3 linked regions of the Homo sapiens genome follow. The protein of the gene in region 3 purifies or fractionates together with the protein of the main gene of each other region. This does not show direct contact. Each region holds a gene or a part of one and is shown on either strand. Other genes may lie near its edges. The genes, in order: ADGRG5, VIPR1 and ATP9A.

The links.
Region 1: the proteins of ATP9A (region 3) and ADGRG5 purify together in Homo sapiens (co-immunoprecipitation; one large-scale study listed by IntAct). This does not show direct contact.
Region 2: the proteins of ATP9A (region 3) and VIPR1 purify together in Homo sapiens (co-immunoprecipitation; one large-scale study listed by IntAct). This does not show direct contact.

What each region holds. Positions count from the first base shown.
Region 1 is NC_000016.10:57,573,643-57,577,388, reverse strand, and holds the end of ADGRG5 (adhesion G-protein coupled receptor G5 isoform 1 precursor), read right to left. Parts: intron 2,575-3,746; coding exon 2,297-2,574; intron 1,952-2,296; coding exon 1,851-1,951; 3' UTR 200-1,850; downstream 1-199. UniProt on the Homo sapiens protein: Orphan adhesion G-protein coupled receptor (aGPCR). Ligand binding causes a conformation change that triggers signaling via guanine nucleotide-binding proteins (G proteins) and modulates the activity of downstream effectors, such as adenylate cyclase.
Region 2 is NC_000003.12:42,530,029-42,533,674, forward strand, and holds part of VIPR1 (vasoactive intestinal polypeptide receptor 1 isoform 1 precursor), read left to right. Parts: intron 1-750; coding exon 751-904; exon of another isoform or gene 905-930; intron 931-1,442; coding exon 1,443-1,503; intron 1,504-1,774; coding exon 1,775-1,841; intron 1,842-1,992; exon of another isoform or gene 1,993-2,067; intron 2,068-2,213; coding exon 2,214-2,305; intron 2,306-2,535; exon of another isoform or gene 2,536-2,551; coding exon of another isoform or gene 2,552-2,597; exon of another isoform or gene 2,598-2,714; intron 2,715-3,646. UniProt on the Homo sapiens protein: G protein-coupled receptor activated by the neuropeptides vasoactive intestinal peptide (VIP) and pituitary adenylate cyclase-activating polypeptide (ADCYAP1/PACAP).
Region 3 is NC_000020.11:51,621,753-51,625,398, forward strand, and holds part of ATP9A (probable phospholipid-transporting ATPase IIA), read right to left. Parts: intron 3,611-3,646; coding exon 3,440-3,610; intron 421-3,439; coding exon 322-420; intron 1-321. UniProt on the Homo sapiens protein: Plays a role in regulating membrane trafficking of cargo proteins, namely endosome to plasma membrane recycling, probably acting through RAB5 and RAB11 activation. Also involved in endosome to trans-Golgi network retrograde transport.

The sequences.
Region 1 (3,746 bases), on a different chromosome or scaffold from region 3:
AACAGCAGAAAGTCAGCGAGGTGGGAGTAGAGACCCGTCTGGGGAAAGAAACTGAGGCATGGTGAGATGTGCCTAAGAAGGGGTTGTGCCTACAAGGTTGAGCAGAGCTGGGCCTGGGGCTTAGACAGGCTGGCCTCTGAAACTCAGTTAACACTGTTAACAATAATAGCAAAAATACTAATGATAATACCAGTAACCATTTACTGAGCACTTACTCTGTGCCAAGTCTCTTTATTTGAATTCTTTTACTTAGTCTTCAAAATAGGTACCACTATGGCCTCTATTTTACAAATAGGAAAACTGAGGCACACAGAGGCTGAGTGGTTTGTCCACAGTCTCACAGCTAGCAAGTGGCAGAGCTGGCATTGGAGCCCAGGCAGCCTGGCTCCAGAGCCTACGCCACTCACTGCCTGGTGAAGGAGTTATTTGCATCTAGAAATGTACAGAAGAGCAGAAGATGTCCCAGGAGAACTTTTCCCCAGGGGAAATCCTGCTCCTATTTTCTGCCTGTGACCTTCGAGGTCATCAAAACGGCCCAGTGGCCTGGGGCAGGGCCCTGAGCACCCACCACCTGAGCACCCTGCTCTGGTGCCAGCTATGTCTGGGGTGCAGCCCCCAAGAGCGAAAGTGCACCGCCGCATTGGGAAAAGAGACAAATGGCCGTGTAAGCGTGTCTTGCCTTTCCTCCTGGAGGAAATGGGTCACTCAGTAGGCGCAGTCCTGCAGTTACGGCCCCTCCAGCTGGTGCATGGGGTCTGCAAACAGGTGTTTGAGCGATTCTAGATGCAGTCTTGGCGCCAAGGGCCTCTGAGTGTGGACCAACGGTGCCGCCTAGTGTTCGTTCTGGGAAACGCACTGGCTTCATGAGCACTGTCTCATGAAGGTCTGGGGTAAGGGTGATTCTCTGAAACTATGGCCTGAGCTTCGAATTTAAAACCCACACTCTCACGCCTACCTGGGCAAATTCAATCTTGCCCAATCACCAAACAGCCAGGACACTGGGATCCAGCTGATTCAGCTGGAGGAGAAAGAAGCGTTTTCCTCTGCCCCCAAGAAAACTGCGGGATGGGCTACTGGTCCAGATGGTCTATGGAAGTCTTGGGAGCACCGCAGGAGGAGCCTCTGGGAACGGCGGAACCTCCCAATCTTTGGGAAGGGTGGGCTTGGACTTGGAGTCATCATAATTTAGGGAGTTAAAGGAAAAGAGGCCTCAGGCATAGGCCAGTAAAGTCTCAGAGCCTGGGTAGGTCCCACCCGCCCCAAGCCAGGATGCCATCTGGCCCTCCCCTGGAGGAAGGTGGCAGGGCCAAGCAGGTGCTTCCAGGGCAGCCTGAATGAGATCCTGCCCCTAGCAAGCAGGTGGAGGCCGCGGGAATTCCCACCCCACGCTGACACTCTTCCCCCTGGTCTTATGCAATTTTTACTAAGCTCCTGGGTTAGGCTGAAACAAAGCCGCTTGCCCCCATGTCACAGCTGTGGATACCTAGGGTCTGTGAGAAGTGGCAGGCCCAAGGTCATACAGACAGACTCAAAGACAGTCCTTGAAACTTGGCTTCCTGATGCCCAGGCTGGTGCTCTGCCCACATCCCTGGCGAGCTGGGCCCAGGTACCAGGACAAAGTTTGCTGCCCCAGGTAAGGTTGGATCTGCCCCGGAGCAAAATGTCAGGGAGAGGTAGAGCAATGCCTTCCCCTCAGTGCCTGGAGAGGCCGTGGAAGTGGAAAAGGCCCCTTGGCGGTCACAGTGGCCTCTGGGGTCCAGCAGCAGGCCTGCCACCCTCTCTAGCAGGAGCCGTAGCCTCAGGCTACTGGCGGCCAGAGAGGCTGAGGATTCCAGGCCAGGAGGCCCGGACTACTGTGTTGTTTGGGAGGAGCTGAAGGCCTCTATCTGTGCCTTGGCCTCTGCTTCTGAGCGGCACCGCTGGGAGCAGAACCACAGGAAAAGGAAGAAACCTGCAAGAGAAAGGCGGGAGTTCCACGGGGCAGCATGGGCTTCCCCAAAGGCCAGGGTCTCCTTGGCTGCAGCGAGCTGGCCTCCCTGGGGCCCATGGGCAACTCCCAGAATCTCTTACTGTAGGAGGCCAGAGGGGCAGAGCCTCAGAGCTGGAAGAGCTGCTGTGGCCAGTCCATAGGGTACCTTCATGCAGATGTAGCCCCCACCAGCTTAGCTAGTGGAGCTGTGGGCTGGATGTTAGTCCCCCACTCGCCCCCTTCACCTGAACCCCTTTAGCAGTGAACATCCCACCAGCCATACACCCCCTGCCAGGTAGCTTCCTCCAGGCCGCCCTCCAGCCCTACCGTAGAGCGAGTTTAAGATGGTGAAGAGGAACAGCTGGGGCAGCAGGAAGACGCCAAAAGAAAAGAAGGCCAAGGCCCAGGTGGTTCCCAGCAGCACGGTGAGGCCCAGCACAGTGACAGTGTCATGGCAGGCCCTGACACTTGGTGCATCCGCCCGCTCCCGCAGCCTGCGCAGGGTCCACAGCGCCCAGGCCAGCACCACCAGGTTGAAGAGGGACGTGAGGCCGCCGTAGCCCATGACCAGGACACTGTGCACCACGGGGCTCCGCACCCAGCATCTGCAGGGGAGGGTGACGTGTCAGGCTCACAGTGGCTCCCAGGCCCGCGGGGAGGCCAGCATCACTCCCTGAAGCCCCACTCGGTCTCCTGGCTCAGGCCCTATTGTTTCTTGCCTGACTGAACACACAGTGAAACCCCTCACCCGGCTTTCCAGCCAGGCCACCATCAGAGGACACATCTGCCTCCTTGGTCAACAATCTGAAGCTCCCTCATGCCCACCTTTCCAGCCACAGTGGTTTCTCTCACGTCCCCATGTCTTCACCCCCCTGAAAATTCTTCCTCTCTCCTTTCCACATCTCACTCCTCTCTGCTTCCATGGCCAGCCCAAGGCCGGCATGCCCCATCTTCTATTGGATCCTTGGCCCGGAGCCCTCTTTCCTGGAAACTTCCCCTTCCACCCCACTACATGGTTGTCACCACCTCATCACCATCTCTGCAGTGGGACGCCCCTCCCCAGGAGCCACTCCCCACCTAGACGGGGCCACCAAGGCCTGCGCTGGAGAGTGGGCGGGCTGCCAACCTGTGGCTTGGTGGACAGGGACCCTCCAAGTGTCAACCTGAGAGCACACAGAGCCGCAGGAGAGCCCACTGAGGGCTGAGCAGAGAGCCATGGAGAACTAACCGAAGCCAGCCCCGGTCCCACGCCCTCCCGGAGGCCTCTGCCCTTTGCCTCCCCAAGACACCTTCAAGACAGATGCCACCTTTTAGTCGGACACAATGTCATGCTGAGGCAGGAGAAAAGGGTTTAGAGACAGGGAAATGTAAGGACTTCCTAGAACTAAATCAAATGGAGGCCAGGCGCGGTGGCTCATGCCTGTAATCTCAGCACTTTGGGAGGCCGAGGTGGGCGAATCACTTGAGGTCAGGAGTTGGAGACCATCCTGGCCAACATGGTGAAACCCCGTCTGTACTAAAAATACAAAAATTAGCTGGGCGTGGTGGCAGGTGCCTGTAATCCCAGCTGCTCGGGAGGCTGAGGCAGGAGAATCACTTGAACCCGAGAGGCAGAGGTTGCAGTGAGCCGAGATCGCACCACTGCACTCTAGCCTGGGTGACAGAGCGAGATTCCATCTCAAAATAAATAAAAATAAATCAAATGGAAACACTTCAGCTATGACAGAAAATATCCTCTCCATTTACATAGGGCATATGCCAAATGACTTTGTAACTT
Region 2 (3,646 bases), on a different chromosome or scaffold from region 3:
CTCCACAGTCCACAGCCCTCCACTCCCCCACATTGAGCAGACTCTTGAAACTCAAGCAAGAATTCTCCCTCATACCTTCCAGCTACCTTCAATACAAATTGGCATTAGATGAATGAGTGGGTGGGGTGGGAGTGTGGATGGGCAGGTTGGTGGATGGCTAAGTAGGCAGCAGGATAAATGGGTTAAGTAAGGAAGATTGGACAGATGATAGGCAGAGGGGCAGGTAGGTAGATATGTGGGTGGATGCACAAGTGGATTGATGGGTGGGTGCAGAGATGAATGGATGGGTAGATGACTGAGTGGGTTGGTAGAAGAATGGAGAGATAGGTGTGTGGGTGGATGGATTGATAGATGGGAAGATGATAGATGATGGATGGACACATGGATAAAAAATGGATAAATGAGTGAGTTGATAGTGAATGTCTAGTGGGTGAGTGGGTAAATAAATGGATACATGGATAGGTGGGTAGATGATTGAATGGGCAGATGGGTAGATATATAGATGGGAAGGTGAATAGATGAATTGATGGATGGATAATTAAAATCACCAGTTTATCCCGAAGTATCAGAGGATCTAAAATTAGGGAAAATGGGAAAACCAATGAGTACATTTTTAAGGGGATAATGCAAAACAACAAAGAGATTAAGTTGGCTGCACTGCAACTGTGTTTGTCCCCCCAGACACGAGTGTGGGCAGTCAAGGACCCTTGACAGCCCCAGTGAACCCCGTCTTTTCTCCTCCCCCTGCAGGTGGGCTGTAAGGCAGCCATGGTCTTTTTCCAATATTGTGTCATGGCTAACTTCTTCTGGCTGCTGGTGGAGGGCCTCTACCTGTACACCCTGCTTGCCGTCTCCTTCTTCTCTGAGCGGAAGTACTTCTGGGGGTACATACTCATCGGCTGGGGTATGGTACCAGGGAGGGCTTCCAGGCTGGGGACAGAGGGGGCAAGGCCTGGAGAACTCCCTAGGGGGAGGGTGCCAACCCAGCTTGCAGTCCTACGTCTTGCTTAGCTGCAGGTCCTGCCTGCAAGGATATCAGCCAAGGGTCAAGAAAGTCCTCAAAATGTCTGATCCCAGGACAAGTCCCTCAGGTTGCAGCTGCACCTAGGGCTGACCTGTGGGACAGATTTTGTGAACATCTTTCCATTTCCCTTTAGTTCCCGAAATACACAGGGCCACTGCTAATCTATAAAGGGCCTCTGTCACAATTAGAAAGAGAATGTCCGTCTAGGTAGACACAGCCCTTCAGGCATACAGCTTCACCCCCTCAGTGGAGCATCCCTCCGTGGTGAACAACCTATGCAACCAAAGACAGCAGACTGACAACCCACCCTTTTCTCTCTCCCTCCCTCTCCCTGCTTTTCTCCAAAATCTCTCCCTCATGCCCTCTACCCCTGCTTCCTGTGCCCTCTCTGCTCTTTCACTCTCCCTGGGCCTGACAGGGGTACCCAGCACATTCACCATGGTGTGGACCATCGCCAGGATCCATTTTGAGGATTATGGGTGAGCTGCTGCCCCACACACTCCCCCGGCCGCCATCACTTGGGCAGGCCCCCTGGGTGGGATGATAATGCCATCTGGCCTTGGTGAGTGGACAAAAACCACAGCTCTCGGGCCAGAGGGGAGGCTGGAGGAGGACCTGGGGAGCAACAGACTCTGGGCCCGGGGTTGCTAAAGTGCTCAGGAGCAGAGCTGGGGACAACTGGGGGAGGTGCTGCTGAGTCTCTCTCTGGCTGAGGACAATCCCTCTCATTCCTCCCCACGGTCTGCTCAGGTGCTGGGACACCATCAACTCCTCACTGTGGTGGATCATAAAGGGCCCCATCCTCACCTCCATCTTGGTAAGATACCCTCCCACCACCTAGAGATGGGGAAACAGGCCCAAAGGGCAGGCAACTTAGCCCAAGGTCACATGGGAAATTAGTATCTAGGTCAGAACTGAAACGTAGCTTCCTAATGCCCAATGCAGGATCATCCCCACCCCTGTCCTACCAGTTCTTCCTTGAGCGTAAGCGGATTGGGAGCACAGTCCTTAGGGATTTGAAGGAGGTAGAGTTCCCGGATGACCTGCCCAAAGGGGAAATGCCAGAGGAGAGGTAAGATAGAGAGAGGGGCAGCAGGACCCTGGGAAAGAAGACAGGCCAGCAGTCAAGGGGCCTGAACACCTCAGCCTTCCCGCTCTGACTGCCCGAACTCGGGTCCCCACCCACTAGGTAAACTTCATCCTGTTTATTTGCATCATCCGAATCCTGCTTCAGAAACTGCGGCCCCCAGATATCAGGAAGAGTGACAGCAGTCCATACTCGTGAGTGTGGGCCTAGTGCCTCAGCCCCCAGTACCTCCATCCCCAGTCCTCAAATCATCCCACATCTCCTTGAAGTCCTCCCACCCCAAACATCCAGAGTCACCAAAGAGCCACATTGTTCTTTCCCACCTCCACCATGGCCTGGCTCAGCCCACCACCATCCCCTGCTCCAGCCCCACCCTCACCAGGCTGCACTCAGAGCCCTGCATGCTTCTCCTGCCCACACTCACCTAGCATCCTTCCCAGGTATGCATCTGCTGCCAAGCCAGGGAGCTCAAGAGGACACCGATGACCTGTGTCTTGTTCATACCATGTGCCCAGTCCCTGGCATGTGCCTCACATGGAAAAAGGGTGCAATAAACACATAGTAGATGAATGCCCTGGGGGAGACCCCAGTCCACCAATGAGACAGCCATGTTCGGGACTCAGTATTCCTCAGTAATAATGATGACACCTGCAGTTTACATGCCAGGCACACGCTAAGGGATTTCCATGCATCATGTCATTTCATCCACACAGTCCCCTGCAAAATTATCTTTACTTTACAGGGAGGAAATGACATACACTCCCTTCTCCTTGAGGGTTTTGGAGCAGGTCACCATGGGCAGGGAGAAGGGGGCACAATGTCCATGGACCAGGGCTTGGAAAGGTGTCAGGACTGTTCCCCCTGCTTGGGAGGACTGGAGGAAGAGGCAGGTTTTTTTGCGGGAGCAACAAGGCTTGAAGACAGAGCTAAAGAAACATGAAAAATATGAAAAGGGAGGCTGTGGGAAGGCAAGTAGGGTCTGCATGCTCACAGATGGGAGTAGGAGATTGAGTATCAGTGCTATTGACACAAGACAAACCTGGGACGTCCCACAAGGCCTTCCAGTCCTGGGATTCTTCTTGGCCTGGCTTCTCTTTGGAGAGTCTGTGCTGTGGTTCTAAGATTCCTGGCTAGAATGTCACAGACTGCTGGATTTAGGATTCTATTCTGGAATCCTGTGATTCTCCCTGATGAGACTAAGACTCACATTCCTGGTGTGACTGCATTCTCTCCTGCCAGGTGTGTAGGCGGAGCTTCCCTTCCTGTCTGAGAAGGAAAGGCTGGGGGGGACGGGGGGGGCATCTGCAGTCTGCTGAGGGGCAGCACATCGGGCCTGTGCACCCTTATCCTCTCCTTTGCCGATGGGACCTTATTTCCCCCAACTTACAATGGTTCAAAAGGGCCTGAATCTGAGGCAAACAGAGCTGGCCATGGTCAGGGCCAGGTCTGTGTGGTGAGACAGAAAGGAAACAGTTGTCAGCAGGCAAAAGGGGTGGGGGCAGTTGGAGATGAAGCTCCTCAAGGAGAAGCTGTCA
Region 3 (3,646 bases):
GTGTATGAGTGGATCTGCATCTTTCGGGGGGAGTGCCTGACTTTCATCAGCTTCTCAAAGGGACCACGACCCCCAAAAGGTTAAGAGCATGGCATTAGCACAGGGCTAGAAGGAGGTACTCCCAAACCACTACTGGAAGAAACTCTCCAGCCGGCGCCTGGGTCATTAATCATCCCATCCAAAGCAACCGTGGTTGATGCTCCCCACCCTAGGTAATTCACATGCTGCCCCTCCCTTCTTAAGGGGCCCACTCAAGGTTAGGAGGTTATAGGACAAATCGAACATCATCCCCACATGGCCCTAACGCAGAGGACACTTTACCAGCCGAAAAACGTGGATGTCTTGGTTTCTGGTCACCAGATGTGCATTCTTCGCTGTGCACGTAGCTGTCTCCAGCTTGTCCCCTGTCAGCATCCAAACCTGAAATCATGGCGTGACAGAGGTCCTGTTTATTAGTTTTTGAGGCCGGCCTGTCATCTGCAACAGCTGAGTTTCCAACAACATGGAGCTGAACTTGGTATGTTCCGTTTACCTCCTGCCGACTCATGCTGTCCCCAACACAACACAGCAAGCGCCCTGGCTGAAGGGCTCTGGGACTCCAAGCAACCACTGCTGGTAGCAGCAAAAACTGGCAGATGCTTCTAGAAAGGGCCATTTGGCCACACACTACAGGAGGTACTATGAAGCTCGGTCCTTGGACCGCATAATTCCCCTTCTGAGGATTTTTCTTAAAGTGATAAATATCCTAAAAGAAGGGAAAGGCTGTACAGGTGAGGGGGCACTTCCCTGTCCTACAGGAAACACTCATTTTTGACGCTGTGGACTTTCTATGTAGTTGGATGAGCAAGACAGACCCTTCTGGGGTTTAACTCAGCTTATAAAACGCTGACCGTAAATGAGTCAGGTTCTTCCGTATCGTGCATTAGCTCACACTGCATTTCTCTGCTGTGGGCTCAGAGAGGGTAGATGACTTGCCCCAAACCACACAGCTACCTCTTGTCCTAACCAGGCCCAGAATCCGGGTCTTTAGAGTCCTCATGGAATGTGCTTCCTGCTCTGTGATTTTACCTCATTAACCCTTTTGTTCTCTTTGCTCCCAGCTGGGAGCAGTCTTGGGGCTATCGGTCAAAGAAAATCTGGATAGGAGGGAAAGTATAGGAAAGAAGATCATGACAATTGTCTCCTGAGTGTCCACTACGTGCCCAGCACCCACGCTGAGCTCTCTGTTACCTTCATGACAGCTTCTGGAGGCTGGAAATGGAAGCGCTAAGAGCTTCAGTCATTTGCCAAGGGTCACAGAAGAAGTAAAGGGAGAGGTAGGATGGAAACCCAGGCAGTGAGACGGGCAGAAGGAAGGCACCGGGCACCTCTCAGGGCTGAGCCTCCCGGGCCCTCTCCCCTAGCTGGGTCTGTTTTCCCTCAATATCCCGCCTGTCCTAAAAATAATATTCTTTTTGGTGAGCTTCGTTTAGTCATAGTTCTCAGGGTTTGAGGTAAGAGAACAAACACTGGGGAAGGAATTGGGAAGTTCAAGTTCCAGAAAAGCATGAAAAGAACGATCAGGTGCACGACATGGCTAATGTCCCATGCTGTGATGAAGGCAAGGTACTACAGGAAGGGTCCAAGACCCCAGCTCCAGTCCCGGCTCTGCTGCTTCCCAATGTGAGAACCTGGGGAATGGAGACGCCTCACTTAGCCTCAGTTTCTACATCCATACAAGGGGCTGATTTAGAAAATATCCTGTGCAGCCAGGCGCGGTGGCTTACGCCTATAATCCCAACACTTTGGGAGGCCGAGGCAGGTGGACCACTTGAGGTCAGGAGTTCGAGACCAGCCTGACCAACATGGAGAAAACCCATCTCTACTAAATATCTAAATATACAAAATTATCCAGGTATGGTGGCACATACCTATAATCCCAGCTACTTGGGAGGCTGAGGCAGGAGAATCTCTTGAACCCAGGAAGTGGAGGTTGCAGTGAACCGAGATCGCACCACTGCACTCCAGCCTGGGCGACAGAGTGAAACTCTGTCTCAAAAAAAAAAAAAAAAAGAAAGAAAGAAAGAAAAGAAAAGAAAATTTCCTGTGCAAGATCGTATCTTAGACTTTAATTACCAACTAACCTGCCCCATCCCAGGCACTCCCCTCCTCCTGTCATCTAACAGGAAACTAGAATGGTAAGTCACATGCACACTCTGTGAATAAAATATCTCGTCTTGGGCTAACATAGTTTTGAGAAGGAGAAAAACCCCAGGACAAAGATGGAAGCAGAAAATGGAAACTCCAGAAGTCTTAGGAATGGCCAGGGCCCCACTGCAGACCCCACGATGAAGCAGAAATGGGCCTCCAGCGGCCAGACTTCCGGAAGCAAGGTCCCGTTGGTGATTTCCTTATGACGAACCAGGCCTGTGAGCCAAATGCAAGCGACAGAATTGGGTTTACAAGGAAACAGGCACGCAGGGGTGGGAGTCCCCAGTGGGCCTGAATGTTGCCTGGCATCTAACCTGTCCTCCTGCCATGGCCCTGCTGAAAGGACAGGCCCCAGGATGCAGCAGAGAGCCACTTTTGAGTGGAGGCCGGTGGCAGGCACACGTTTCCAGGAGCTCCAGGCCAATGAGTTTGGTTGTTCACACCTCCCTTGGTCCACTGAGGACCAGGTCCTCACGCGCCCTCTGCTGGCCCCTCCAGATTCAACTCCTAGTATTTTTTTTTGGGTCGCCACTGGTAGAGTGCAAAATGCTAATACGACAGTGTGATGGCGCTGACGGTCACTCTGCTGGGTGGTCACTCACTCACTTGGCCACACGGCAGACAGACCGGCGTGCTGATCACTCAACTAGAATTTAATCAGCAGCCATGCACGCTGGACACTGCTCGGCCTTGAGCACCAGGGAGCCCAGTGGAGTCAGGGGAGTCATCGGTACAGTAAAGGCAAACGCTACACAAGATGTCTTCCAAAATCAGGGCTGGAGGGCCAGGCACAGTGGCTCACACCTGTAATCCTAGCACTTCGGAGACTGAGACAGACAGATCACCTGAGGTCAGGAGTTCAAAACCAGCCTGGCCAACATGGTGAAACCCTCTATCTACAAAAATATAAAAATTAGCCAGGCGTGGTGGTACGTGCCTGTAATCCCAGCTACTAGGGAGGATGAGGCACAAGAATTGCTTGAATCCAGGAAGCAGAGGTTGCAGTTAACCAAGATCATGCCACTGCACTCCAGCCTGGGCGACACAGCGAGACCCCGTCTCAAAAAAAAAAAAAAAAAAAAAATCACAGTTGGAGGGGCAGAAACAGTGCCTGTGGCCCATTGCAGATAAGGCACTCCTGGTGTCCTCTGCTGCTCCTCCCACCCTTTCCCCCTGTGATCTCCCTGCACTGCTGAGGGATAACTGGCATTGCCCTGGAGTGCCCTTCCCTGCGGGCAGCCCGCCCTACCTTGATGCCAGCATTCCTCAGGGTCTCCAGCGTGGGCCGCACATCTGCCTGCAGCTGGTCCTCCACGCCCGTCAGGCACAGCAGTTCCATCTCCATCTCCAGGCTCTCGATCACCGTGGCCACTTTGAGGGAGCGGTCGTGCACACTCAGCTTGGCCTGGACGTAGCGGGCCTGGGACACACCAGCAGATGCAGTCACTGCTTAGGG